3 separate regions of the Homo sapiens genome follow, and regions 1 and 3 are each linked to region 2. The links come from fine-mapping of genetic effects on gene expression. A gene starts in region 2. Each other region holds a variant in brackets. All regions are shown on one strand. Distances are between the middles of the regions.

Region 1 (4,244 bases), 830 kb before region 2:
ACTCTGGACGGAGTCCAGAACTCCATCCCCACCTCACCCATCTCACCCTTTTGAGTTGGCCAGCACTGAGATTAGAACGTGTTCCTCCTTTTTACTGAAGCAACAGAAGTGGAGGAATTAGACAAAGTCATTGGGATTTTAAGTGGATGTTTCAGGCCTAAGAAGCCTGAAGGGATGGGGGTTCATCACTGGGAAGATGGCACATCCTAGGCAAGAAAAGGGAGGTGAGACACGAAAGGGAGGAGGCTTTAAAGGGAGAGAGCCACAGCAAGTTGGAGAGAAGAGAAAAGAGGAATTGTGCATGGGATGCCTCACTTCTTTGGGAGATACCTAGAGGAGAAGGTAGCAAGGCCAGGGGCTAATAGATGCTTAGAAAATAACTGAAAGATGATCAGTTTAATAGCTTTCTGCAAACTATCCTGGGTGTACAGTCATTGGTCCAGAAAGGTGAAGGTTGGAAAATGATTTCTGCTTCCCATCCCTTCTCCTAAAGCCAATGAGAGTGACCAGACCCTTCCGGTAGGGAGCTGCTTCATTGAGACCCACAGCACATTCAGTTGGAGGAAGGCAAGGGAATATTTACAGAAATAACAAAATAAAGGAATATCCCTGACATGACCCTCATCCCTAATGGGTCATCTAATAGGTATGAACCACACCCTCTTTGTGGCTTTTGAGGTGGCAGAAGTATCTCAGATGGTGACTCAACTGGAAAAAAAGTAAGTTAAATCCTCAGAATTTGTATCATACTCTACGGAATGGAAAACAAGGATTCTCCATGCAGGTTATATTCCAGATGAGAAAACTGAGATAAGAGAACTAGAGGAGTGTATTGACCACATCTTGGTGAAATAAATAGGATATTACAGGCTCAGTAAATGACCAAGAATCCTGTAACTGTGCTCTTCCCCCATATCTGACTGTCTGTGCTGCTAGGAGGAGGATTGGGACCTGCCTGTATGGTCTCTGGGGCTGGAGATTGTCAGGCAGGGGTGCAGCCCTCTGTCCACACAGCCAAGGGAAGTCCCTGAGTGGGATGTGAAGTCCCACTCAGTGCAGCACGTGATATTAATGACCCCAACGTGGAATTCACATCACTTACCTTTTCTCCTGCATGTTGGAATGAAACTGAAAGGGGTTTTGCTCTCAAAAAAAGCCTCAGGAGAGTCTTCAAAAGGCAGTGATAATATAATCAAGGCACATGGCTTCACTGAAAAACAGTTGGGTTGCAATAGAGCAAGTATGAAATGTGCTGTGAATAGAAAGCCCCTATTGTTGGACACTCAAACAAGGTACACTTGACCCCTTTCAATAAGATTCTTAATATTTTTAAAGGAGCAAAAATATCTTTCCTGCAGCAAAAAACGTTCACAATCCTTTTCTTACCCATCAAAGTTCCATTTAAACTTAACCTTTTCTTTTCTGTTTTACGTATTTTTCAAGAAAGGAATATATTGACATAAGCCTGAGTTTTCTTGCCTTCTTGTTTTCTTCACTTTTCATTGCCAATTCTGTCCAAAGTAATGGAGGCTGGAACGTGGATGTGGAGTGTGTAGCCGCCATGGTGGTGAGAGGATAGATTATATGGAACACTCAAACATCTAATACGTATGTATTTATTCATGCACTCAACAACTAAAAATAGTGTTTACTCACTTCAAATATGTTTACTGAGAACCTATCATCTGAAGGACCCGCAGGTGAACAAGACAGGTTTAATTCACAAGATAAATTATGTATCCTGATTACTACAATAGGAAGGAAAAAGTTAGTGCCTTAAGATATACATATACAATGACAGAGGATTTGAAAGCATGGAGAGAGAACTTTCAGCTCAAGAGCTCATGAAAGGCTTTGTAGAGTCTTGAGATGGCATTTTTTTGAGCCTAAAGAATAGGTAGGATTCAGGCACGAGGAAGTGGGAAGTAGTAGGGATTATTGGCAAATGAAACTGCATGAACGACTTAGCAAATGGGAATTATAGGTCAAATACTAAAAGAAGTAAATCACATATGTGCTAGTCTGTTCTTGCAGTGCTATAAAGAAATACCTGAATAAAGACAAGA[G/A]GTTTATTTGCTCATGGTTCTTCAGGCTGTACAGTAAGCATAGTGGCTTCTAGGGAGGCCTCAGGAAGCTTTCAATCATGGCGGAAGGTGAAGGGAAAGCAGGCAAGTCTTACATGGTCAAAGCAGACGTGGTGGCAGGTGCCACACACTTGCAAAAAACCAGATCTCATGAGAGCTCACTATCATGATGACAGCACCAAGAGGCATGGTGTTAAACCATTAGAGACCACCTCCATGATCCAATCATCTCCTACCAGACCTCACCTCCAAACACTGGGGATTACAACTGAACATGAGAATTTGGTGAAGACACAGATCCAAACCATATCAGTATGGGATGAATGAAGTTGAGAAAAAGCATATGATGAGAAGCAGTGGAAATTATATTTGGAAAGCTATGTTGGTGTCAGATAGCAGGCTGTATTTGGTGTATTACTGTGGCTGCATGGGGGTTGAATCTGATTACAGCAGTACTTCACCCACACTCACAGACAGACACACATAAAATGGTGGAAGTGAGGGAGAAAAAACAGGTATAAGGCTATTTCACTGGCCCGGAATATGACAAATACCTGAGCTGCAAAAATCAAAGTTGGGACGGAGAGGAGAGTTTTCTATTATAGATATTAAATTGGGTAATCAATTACAGATAAGTTTATAATTGATCATTTATCAAGCCAAGGGAGAAGGCACAGTTCAAGATGACTTGGAAGTTTCCATGTTGTGAAATAAAAAGTAAGGTGGTCTATTGAGAAACAGAAGAAAAGTAGTTGATTTTGTAGGGAAGATCAGAAATTCAGTTTGGAAACCTTGCAGGTGCTGGTCCATTAGGATACCTGGGTGAGGATGCACAGTTGCAGCATTTTCTCTGCAAATGAAAGATTACAGATTCAAATTTGGGAGTCCTCAAATAAAGGTTATAGCTGGAGCTGTGAAGCTGGCTGAGATTGTCAAGAACAAGTTTGGAGAGAAAAGAGGGAAGATGGAGTAGAGAAAAGAAGAATGATTAGGTCAAATCCCTGGAGAAGATGTGTTCTCAAAGGCAGAAAAAAGAAAAAAAAGTTAAAAAGAAGAAGAACAGAAGGAGAAGAAGGAGGAAAAGGAGGAGGATGAAGGGGAGGAGGGACAGAGAGGAGTAATTTGAGAAGCCAGAGGACAAAAAGAACGCTACAATGCATTAGAAGCTAAATCACATATGATTAGGTTTTCTGTAGAAAATGTAAAAACAAAATAACAGTGGTTTAAAATTTTTGAGCTTTTTTTTTTTTTAACATAGGAAAAATCTGAGGTAAAGAATCGACGGGCTGGCAAGTCTGCCCCACGATGTCATTAAGGATCCTGGCTCGTTCTGTGTTTCTGTTCCATGATCTTTCATGTAGAGCCTCATGATCCAAGATGACTGCTGTACCTCCAACCATCATGCCCACATTACCATAAATGGAAGAAGGAGAAAGGGCAAAATAACTTGTGTTACCATTTTGCAGTGCCTTTAGGGATTCTCCTATAAGTCCCATCAAACAACTCCTGCATCTGAATTATTGATTGCATTTCACAGCAGTGAGGCTGGGAAATATAGTATTTGCATTGCTGCCTAGAAGAAAATCAGAGTCTATTAGTAAGGAAAAGGGGCAGTTGATATTGGATAGGCAATCGGTAGCAGTCTCCACCAATGAGCCAAAGGTGGAGGGGGTTTTAGATAGGAAAGAAAAGTCAACAGCCATGTTCGGAAGTGTGGGCACAAACTCAGCTGCTTCAGCGTCACCTGGGAACTTATTAGAAACGTAAAATCTTGGGCTCCAACCTTGGCCTACTGCATGAGAAATGCTGCGGGTGGGAGCTAGCAGGAGATGCCTTAAAAAACCCTCCAGGGTATTTGGATTATTGCAAAAATGAGAACCATTAATCAATCAGTATAAATGCTGCCATTTGTCCCCAAGGGTTTGTTTTTACAATCATTTGTTGAACAATTATCATGTGTCAGCCACAGTGTTAGATGCCTCTATCCATATTATACCATTAAGAGACAGTTTATTCATCTTTTATTTTTATTTTTTATTTCTTGAGGCAGGGTCTCACTCTCACTCAGGCTGGAGTGCAGTGGTACAACCATGGCTCACTGCAACCTGGACCTCCTGGGCTCAAGCAATGCTCCCACCTCAGCCTCCCCAGTAGCTGGGA
Region 2 (4,244 bases):
TGGGCTAAGCATGGAGGATTCAAAGATAAATAAAACAGAAGCCTTGTTTTCAAGGAGTTCGAAGACTCAAGGTTAAGGCAGATCCACAGAGGTGCCAGCCTTACTGCACTGCATAGTATTTTATATTAATATATACACATCATCTGTGTATAGAGTACTTCAATATCCAGAAAGGAAACAAGTCTTTTGAGATTTACCTGTTATGATTTTAGGATTTCTACTGCAATTGCCAGTAGCTTGATCTTTATGCCCTGGGGGCTGTCTTTGGGGCAGAAAGTATGGCAGTGCAGGGTTTGCAGGGATTCCGTTTGCATTCTGTGAACAGGTGATAATGTTTTTAATGAACTTAAGTTACATTCATTTTTTAATTGATATATAATAGATGTATATTTATATTTATATAATATATAATCAAGTCAGGGCTTCAAATTATTCTCTACTAGCTATTTTGAAATATACAATAGATTATTGTTTACTATTGTCATTCTACTGATTTATTAAACACTAGGTCTTATTTCTTCTATCTAAATGTATTTTAAGTCACACTCATTTCTGCCAGAGAATTCCTTGGACCCTCTGCATATATCCCTGAGACTCTTGAGGGTTCACTGACTCCCAGACTCTAAAGAGCTAGAAGAGGTTTTGGAGACCATGTCATCCATTTTCCCACCCTGGGGAAGAATCCTCTTTCTATGGTATTCCTGGCAATCACTCTGTCTATGCTGGAATATTTCTATGACAGAGTGCACTGTTTTTCTAGGCAACCCATTTCACACTCAACTGTTAATTTACATAGGGTTGGTACTTGATATTTCTTGGAAGAATAAACTATATTGAGCAAAATTTCCTCCACTGATCCTTGCTATCCTCTGCAGAGTACCAAGGAACAAATCTATCTCTTTTCTACTCAAGAGTTCTTGAATGTTCAAAAGTTGAGTAGAAAAAAGCTTTCTCTCCCTTGCATCTCCTCATCTCCAGGCATTCTGTGAAGTTTTTTCAAACCTCTCTTCATGTGATGGCACACCCAGGCCTGACAGAGAGAGCCTGCCTTGTGGTTGTTCCTATTTTCCAGTTCTTTGTGATCTCAAAGTAGCTACAGTTTCTAGAGTCTGGATTATGTTCTACTCATTGCTAAGTCAGGCAGCACGACCATATTCTTTGATGTGGTCATTGCATTTCTATGAATGCAGCCTCCACCAGCATTTGCTCTTTGGGGAGCCATCACAACACACTCACGATGGGCTTAGAGTCAGCTAAAACCACTAAATCCCAGCACTGGGTCCTCCACACGCTTGAGGACTATGCATTCTAGCCAAGTTGCAGGCAACAATATGTGGAGTTGGAGAGGGCAAAGTCAGGGAAGAGTGGCTGGCATATTGCTAGAGAGTCCCTTCCGATTTACCTCTGCTTTCTCCATAAGGACCAAAACAAACAAGAGAAACAACAGATTTAAGTAACAGAAACAATAAGGTAGAGTGCATGTTTGAAGAATTTCTTCGAACTCCTAGGTTTTACATACCGACCACATGTAGGTGATCAAATCGCTCAAGCAAGACAAAGGACATTTTCATTTGTTGTTTCCACGGTTTGAACTTTTCCACTAAATGGCCTCCTGCTTTTGCCGAGTCTCCACTTAAGCCTGGACAGTGAAGCTTGAATTAATATTGGTGATGCTGTCCGTTGCTTAAGACATGTCAGAGGGGTCACGGTTTTCCTAAGCTTTGAGGGGCTGCTGGACATTTCAAATGCAGCAAATGTCACAGAATAGCCTTTAAAAACCCTCAAATTGTGCATTGTTCATCTCTTTTTTAAGGAAAGATTTGCTAATATTGGGAATTTCCTGAGTGGCAGCTCTGGGTGTGTGATCTACACACACCTTCGCGCGCTTTTGTGTCAGGGGCTGGGCCCTGGTTGAGCACAGAGGTGCCCGGGCATATGGGCTGGGTGGGAACATGAGTAATGCCTGCCAGAGCCTCATCCACGCGAGGCGTGTGGTCGTGGACCCACTTACGACTACCAAGAGGACATGCAGTAAAGAAGAGAAAGAAAGGGAGGAAGAAAGTCTGGCGTCCCAGTGAGGGCTGGAAGCACAGTTCCAGGATAGGTCTGCTGAGTTCCTCAGAACCCCTCGCTCCCTGTCCTGCACTCAGCTGGAGTCGCCGATGCGACAGCATCTTAACATGGAAGTATACTGACGTCGGATTCCGGGGATGCAGCTGCTGCAAAAACTACAACTGTATTTTCTTGTCCGCGCACCACAGCCCGCCTCTCTCTGACCCACATTCCCCGGTCAGCTCTTGCATTCTGCACGCTTTTCATTCTCCCCCCACGACCCCGTCGACCAGAAGCTTCGTCGCCTGCCTCGTACTCGCGCCTGACTGCTCGTGAAGTACGAGCCTCCGCGGCCCTTACTTTGTTCCGGTGCGGATAGGCGGCGGGAGGAGCTGCATGAGGCCGGCGCTGACCGCCCGCCGCTGCGGGAGGCTGTGAGAGCCCGGCAGAGGGCAAGGGACGGCCACGCCCTCCTCCCGTCGCTATAGAAACGGCTCCCGCCCTTTTTATGACTCCAGAGCTGGAAGGGCTTTCTCAGGCTGTGGTCCCAAACCACCTTGCAGAGTAGCAGCCTGAAGAACATACTCCTCGTCCTCCTACTCGCATTCTCTTGCCCCAGTTCTTTAAAGTATAGGGCAAGAATTGAACAAAATCCCAGCATAAAGAACTTAAAGTTGGTTGCCCAGACCGGACACATGAAATTATCCCTACTCTCTCCCCTTCTTCAAGCGAAGCATGTGGTTATCAGAATTACATCACAGAAGTTCTGGCCGGGCGCGGTGGTTTTACACCTGCAATCCCAGCACTTTGGGAGGCCTAGGCAGACCACTTGAGGTCTGGAGTTCGAGACCAAACTGCTCAAAGTAGTGAGACCCCCCCGCCCCTGTCTCTATTTAGACATTTTTTTCTGTAATCCCAGCACTTTGAGAGGCCAAGGCGGGTGGATCACGAGGCCAAGAGATCAAGACCATCCTGGCCAACATGGTGAAACCCCGTCTCTACTAAAAATACAAAAATAAGCGGGGCGTGGTGGTGCGTGCCTGTAGTCCCAGCTACTTGGGAGGCTGAGGCAGGAGAATCGCTGGAACCCGGGAGGCGGAGGTTGCAGTGAGCCGAGATCGCGCCACTGCACTCCAGCCTGGCGACAGAACGAGACTGCATCTCAAAAAAAAAAAAAAAAAAGAAAAAAAGAAAAAGAAAAAGAAAAAAAGTAAGTACATAGCAAAAGTTCTGGGTAAAATCCATATATCAGCTGAACACTTTTTGAGTGCTTACTCTGCACCAGATTGTAGAAAGCATGAAAAGGGAAATTTGTAATTGAGTGGCAGTAGGTTGACCTGGAGGTGCACAGTCTGGTCCAGGCAGAAAAGACATTCAAATGAAGCTTTCTGAAAGAGCTGAGTTGAATCTGAGTCTTCAAGGACAGGCAGTAGTTGTCTACGTAAAGGAGGCAAGTCCTATTCTGAAGGCCAGAGCCATAGAAAAGCTTGGTACCATTGTGCCAGCACCCAGTTTAGTGGGGCAGGGATCAAAGTTGCACGTGGGCAGAGACAAGGTTGAAGCAGCAGGAAAGGGGGAGTCAGACACCAAGTAGGCTATGAACTCGACCAGGGTAAGGTGTGTATGTGCAGACTGCAGAGGGGTGTTCATGCTGACTTTATTTTATAAAACCCTCTGTGGCAATAACAATGGAAGTAGGCCCGAGTAGGTTAAGAATCAAGGCAAGGATGCCTGTTAGAAATAGTGAGTGATGATGTTTCAGAGTAAGGGAGAGCACATGGAAGAGTAGTTTTGAGAAATTTAGGAAATGGAGTAAGACTTGGTGACTGGATGTGAAAGTCGAGAGAAGACTCAATCCCAGGATGACACCTTTGGCACCTGCAGTGATGGTGGTGCCATTCATTTACCAACAGAAAACACAGGAGAGATGTCAGGGGTAGGAGGAGACGTTGAATTTAACAACTGATCTGCTACATCAAATTGTCAGTGGACCATCCACAGGTTCTGTTGTCAAGAGCATGGTATAGGGTACAGACCCTGACTTGGCAGTCACTGTCACATAAGTGACCCCTGGAGTTTGCATAGAACATGAAACTGGTAAGACAAGTAGGTAAAGGTGACACAACAGATTAGAAAGCTGCAAAATAATGAAGAGTAGGCATGGAGATGGGAAGAAATGACAAAGAAATGTG
Region 3 (4,244 bases), 42 kb before region 2:
AGAGATAAGGAAATTACAGTGTGGGTCACCTGCCCTTGCTGCTCGGTTCCCACCCATAATCCATCCATTATCCTGCTCTTCTGTTCCTCAGACCCTTTGACACTGAGGTCAAGAGGAAGCTGAGTCAGTTCTGGGGCTGTAGGAAATTTGAAACATAGGCCCCGTTCTCTTTGGTATTGGAAGCAGGAGTGGTCTGGGGATGCTTTATAAAATCATTCATTATCAACCTTAGAAGCCATCTTCTCTGCTCCCCTCATTTTATAGTCCAGAGCTGGGAAATGCCTAGTCAAAAAGACAGAGCCAGGACTAAGACCCCAGGTTTAATGACTCGCAGGCCAGTGTTCATTCCACCACAGCTATTTTTACCTAAGTTATTTTAATATTTTATTATTAGTTTCGATCATGAAATGAAATTATCTATGTTTAGTCATTCTCAAGGCTATATGTGTTTCTCTGTAACTTTGAGACAATCTGGAAAATAGAAATTTGGCAAAGATAGATAGATACAGATACATAGATAGATAGATAGATAGATAGATAGATAGCCAGCCAGCCAGCTAGCTTGGTGTTTGCACACAAAATATCTTTGTTCACTGGGAAAATCCTAAAATGTAAAATTTAAAATTTTTAAAGTTATTTTTCTATTTTGTCTAATTTATTTCCAAAACAAGATGGCTTTCAAGTGAAAGCATAATAGATATAATTAATAATCATATCATGAGTCTTGGTCAAGCCTTGCTATTAGGAGATAGTTTTCCCAGAAAACTGTCATTTCCCATAATGAATGACTAATGCCTGAACAATACACATACTTTGAAGTCAAATAATTTCCAATTCTTTGTTTTCAACATTTTAATCGGGTTGTCAGCTGACAGGCTGGTAAACATAATTTTAGATGACAGATCACCATTTGATTCTTACACAGAACTCAAAAGGAGTCACCGAATTAGACGACATTAATTAGAACAGGCTTCCTCACTGGGTTCACATCTACACCACCAAGCAATTGGAATCACATTGATCCCGAGCCCGGGCATTCTAGCAAGAAGCATTATTCACCTATGGGTATAGGCATTAATTTGGAAAAAAAAAAAAAAAAAAAAAAAAAACCCAGCTCTATTCATTTTTCTAAGAGCTGTATGCCCAATAAGATTTCACATTTTATTTTCAATAATTATCAAAATTTGCACACCAGATATATTTTAATGGTAACTTACCAGAAAGAAATTTTTACACATGAGGCTTACGGTATCAGGAAATTTTTAAAGCTATAATGATTGATAGAAGTTTCTAAACATAAACGTATATTAAATTAGAATAAAATTCCATAGAGGAAGTAGAAAAAAGAGTAGAAACAAAAGGGAAAAAAGAACAAAGTAAAATCATGGCACAACTCTTAAGAACCTGTTCACATACTATCAGATAGATTTTAATGGGTGTCATGTCCGTCTGGTTTTGCATTCTTTTGGATATTTTTGAAAGAGCGGTGTAATTTTATTTTAAAATGTCACTATTTACAATATGATGGAAATGACATCCTCTGCAACTATTTAAATTTATGATAAAACGTTAGATGTCGACTTGACAAGTACAAGGGAGTACACAATTTCAAAACTCCTTTTAGGGAATACTCAACAACAACAACAACAACAAGGTATGCAGGCCATGGTCCTGGGCGAGTCTGGTGCAGCCCCGTGTCTGAGGGCCAAGCCCACGGTCTCCGTGGGAGCCGACCGCCAGCCCTCCGCGTACCTCCATGATGCAGGCCAGCTGCTCCACCTCATTCTCCCCGGGGAACAGGGGGTAGCCCGTGTACAACTCCGCCGTGATGCAGCCCAGGCTCCACATGTCAATGGCCACGTCGTAGGGGTGGCCCAGGATCACTTCTGGGGATCGGTAGAACCGGCTTTGGATGTACGTGTATACTGCGGAGGCAAAGTAAGAGAAACCTCGTGGGACAAACTTCTTA[C/T]CCTCCAGAACGCTCTCCCCCAGGACAACTTCTCAGTTAGACTGCGCCCCCGCTGGCAGTGAAAGGGAAGTGCAGCTGGCCAGCACTTAGAACTCCCATTACACCATCACAGCATCAAATCCGCCAGCAACCTGATTATAAAGGAGGTGTGACTGTCCCTGCTTTATTGATAACGAACTCCAACGTGGGCACTGTCGTAGGAAAGTGAATCTAAGTGAGCCAAGTTTATAACAAACAAACAAAACATAAGACAAATATAAGACTAAGTTTTCAAACTGTCAGATTGATTTGGGGTAGACAGCTTCTGAGTCTTGTGACTTGGCAAGAGAGTTATCAAGTTAGAAAGGGAGCATATCAAGTTAGAAAGGGAGCATGCAAAGTCTGTATTCAATATAGCATGTGCACTTATTGTATAGAAAGAAAATTCTCAACAGGTGAGGATGAACAGACTGAAGTCGAAGAAATGGAACACGGTAGTTATTTCCGCATAACTGGGGTTTCTGGTTACCTGGGGAGGGGCAGGGATTCTGTAACCACTTTTCTGTTGTTTAAATTGGTTATTGTCAGAACATAATTCTGTGATTTAAAACAAAATAGAGATTTAATAAAAATAATGTTTATATCCTGCCTGCTTCCCAAATGTGTTTGTGGTACTTTGCAAAGTACACATGCACAGAGTATTTTAGAACATGGATTTAATGGTATTTACATTATGTTTAGTATGTGCCAGGCACGATTCCAAGTACTTTTATAGATAAGCCCTTTCAACCCTTACATTAATTCTGTGAAGCAAGTAGTATTATTGCCTCCAATTTAAAGAAGAGAAAACTGAGGCATACAGAGGTTAAAATGTCAAGGTTACTCAGCTATAAGTGACAGAGCTGGGATTTGAGAGTAGGCAGTTTAATTCTAGCATCAATATTAGATACTGCCTCACAGTTAAAATAAAGATAAAAAAGATGTCAGAAAATATGCAAAGGGGGAAATGACTGCTAGAAACCAAGGATAAAATAATTACGAATTCAGTTCCGAGCATCTTGGCAGCCAAGATAAATGAAAACTGAAAAGTTACACAGCTTTCAACATCTGAGAAGGGAAAACATACAAGTTCTTTGTGGGAAGCATTACTTTTTAGCTGGAATTTCTTATAGGATTCATACATAAAGACACAAAGGTTTTATGTCCTCAAAAATTGATCTGCCAGAGAGGCCCAGATGGAGGACACAGAGGCATGCTGTTGCCATGGCAGTGTGGTCCTGGCTGCTGCGGAGGCAGGTGCCAGGGTCTCCCTTGCCTCGATGTGAAGAGCTTAGAAAGCGGAGGAGAGGAGAACTCCCCTGGCCGTCTCTGTGACCCCAGCCGCCGCATTTTACACAGACAGGAGGGAAACAGAGGGAGAGAAGGGAAGGACGGTGTGGAGTAGAAATATTAATGGTGGGAGAGAGGAAAATGAATGAAAATAAAGAGACTGATTCAAAAGAAAGTGAAGAATACAAAGATGAATCTGAAAAGGACCTGGAGGGGTTAACTAATGAAAATGAAAAAAGTGATGCCAGCATAATAGAGATGGCTTGTGAGAAGGAAGAGAATATTAACCAAGACTTAAAAGAGAATGAAACAGTAATAGAACACAGCAAACAGCTTTCTGATCCTGACAAATCTTTGCAGGATGAGGTCTCACCAAGAAGAAATGACTTCATTTCGGTACCGAGTATTCAACCTTTGGATCCCATATCAGATTCAGATAGTGAAAACTCTTTCCAGGAGTCCAAACTAGAAAGCCAGAAAGACTTGGAGGAGGAAGAGGATGAGGAAGTAAGGTGATACATTATGGAGAAAATTGTACAAGCTAACAAGCTTCTATAGAATCAAGAACCCGTGAATGATAAAAGGGAGTGAAAATTTAAGCTCAAGGACAAATTAGTTGATCTGGAAGTTCCTCCACTAAAAGACACTAATACTTACAAAAGTTATTTTGAAAATGAAAGAAATATATTTGGGAAACTGTCACAGTGATGTATTTCCAATGATTTGGGACAAGAAAATATGCTCCTGTCACTTATTAATGGAAGCTGTGAAATAAACAAGGATAGGACAATACTGGTAGAGAGAGATGGAAAATTTGAACTTCTGAATTTACAAGACATTGAAGAGTCAGGGGTATTTGCCTCCCATTAATAATGCAAATAGTACAGAAAATGACCCTCAGCAGGTGTTACCCAGATCTTCCAACTCCTGTGTCAGTGGCATCAAGAAAGAAGATTCTGCAGCAAAG

Evidence for each region. PIP is the estimated chance that this variant, and not a neighbour inherited with it, causes the effect.
Region 1: its variant is fine-mapped to the expression of DYRK4 in cerebellar hemisphere (GTEx, PIP 0.98).
Region 3: its variant is fine-mapped to the expression of DYRK4 in whole blood (TOPMed, PIP above 0.99). The same link has a PIP of 0.9 or more in CD4 T cells and CD8 T cells.

Annotation. Positions count from the first base shown.
Region 1 is chr12:5,385,480-5,389,723 of GRCh38, reverse strand. No RefSeq gene overlaps it. Among named protein-coding and RNA genes, the nearest start is that of NTF3, 45 kb to the left of the region's middle. RefSeq lists an enhancer at 318-1,517. The variant G/A (reference allele first, on the strand shown) is at 2,067.
Region 2 is chr12:4,560,452-4,564,695 of GRCh38, reverse strand. It overlaps DYRK4 (dual specificity tyrosine phosphorylation regulated kinase 4), which reads right to left and starts at 2,488. Exons shown (of 15, transcript NM_001394779.1): 1 at 2,413-2,488. The coding sequence starts at 2,450. RefSeq lists a silencer at 2,359-2,653.
Region 3 is chr12:4,602,595-4,606,838 of GRCh38, reverse strand. DYRK4 (dual specificity tyrosine phosphorylation regulated kinase 4) reads right to left here. Exons shown (of 15, transcript NM_001394779.1): 11 at 1,753-1,925. It also overlaps the pseudogene LOC103568124. Among named protein-coding and RNA genes, the nearest start is that of DYRK4, 43 kb to the right of the region's middle. RefSeq lists an enhancer at 1,679-2,018. The variant C/T (reference allele first, on the strand shown) is at 1,970.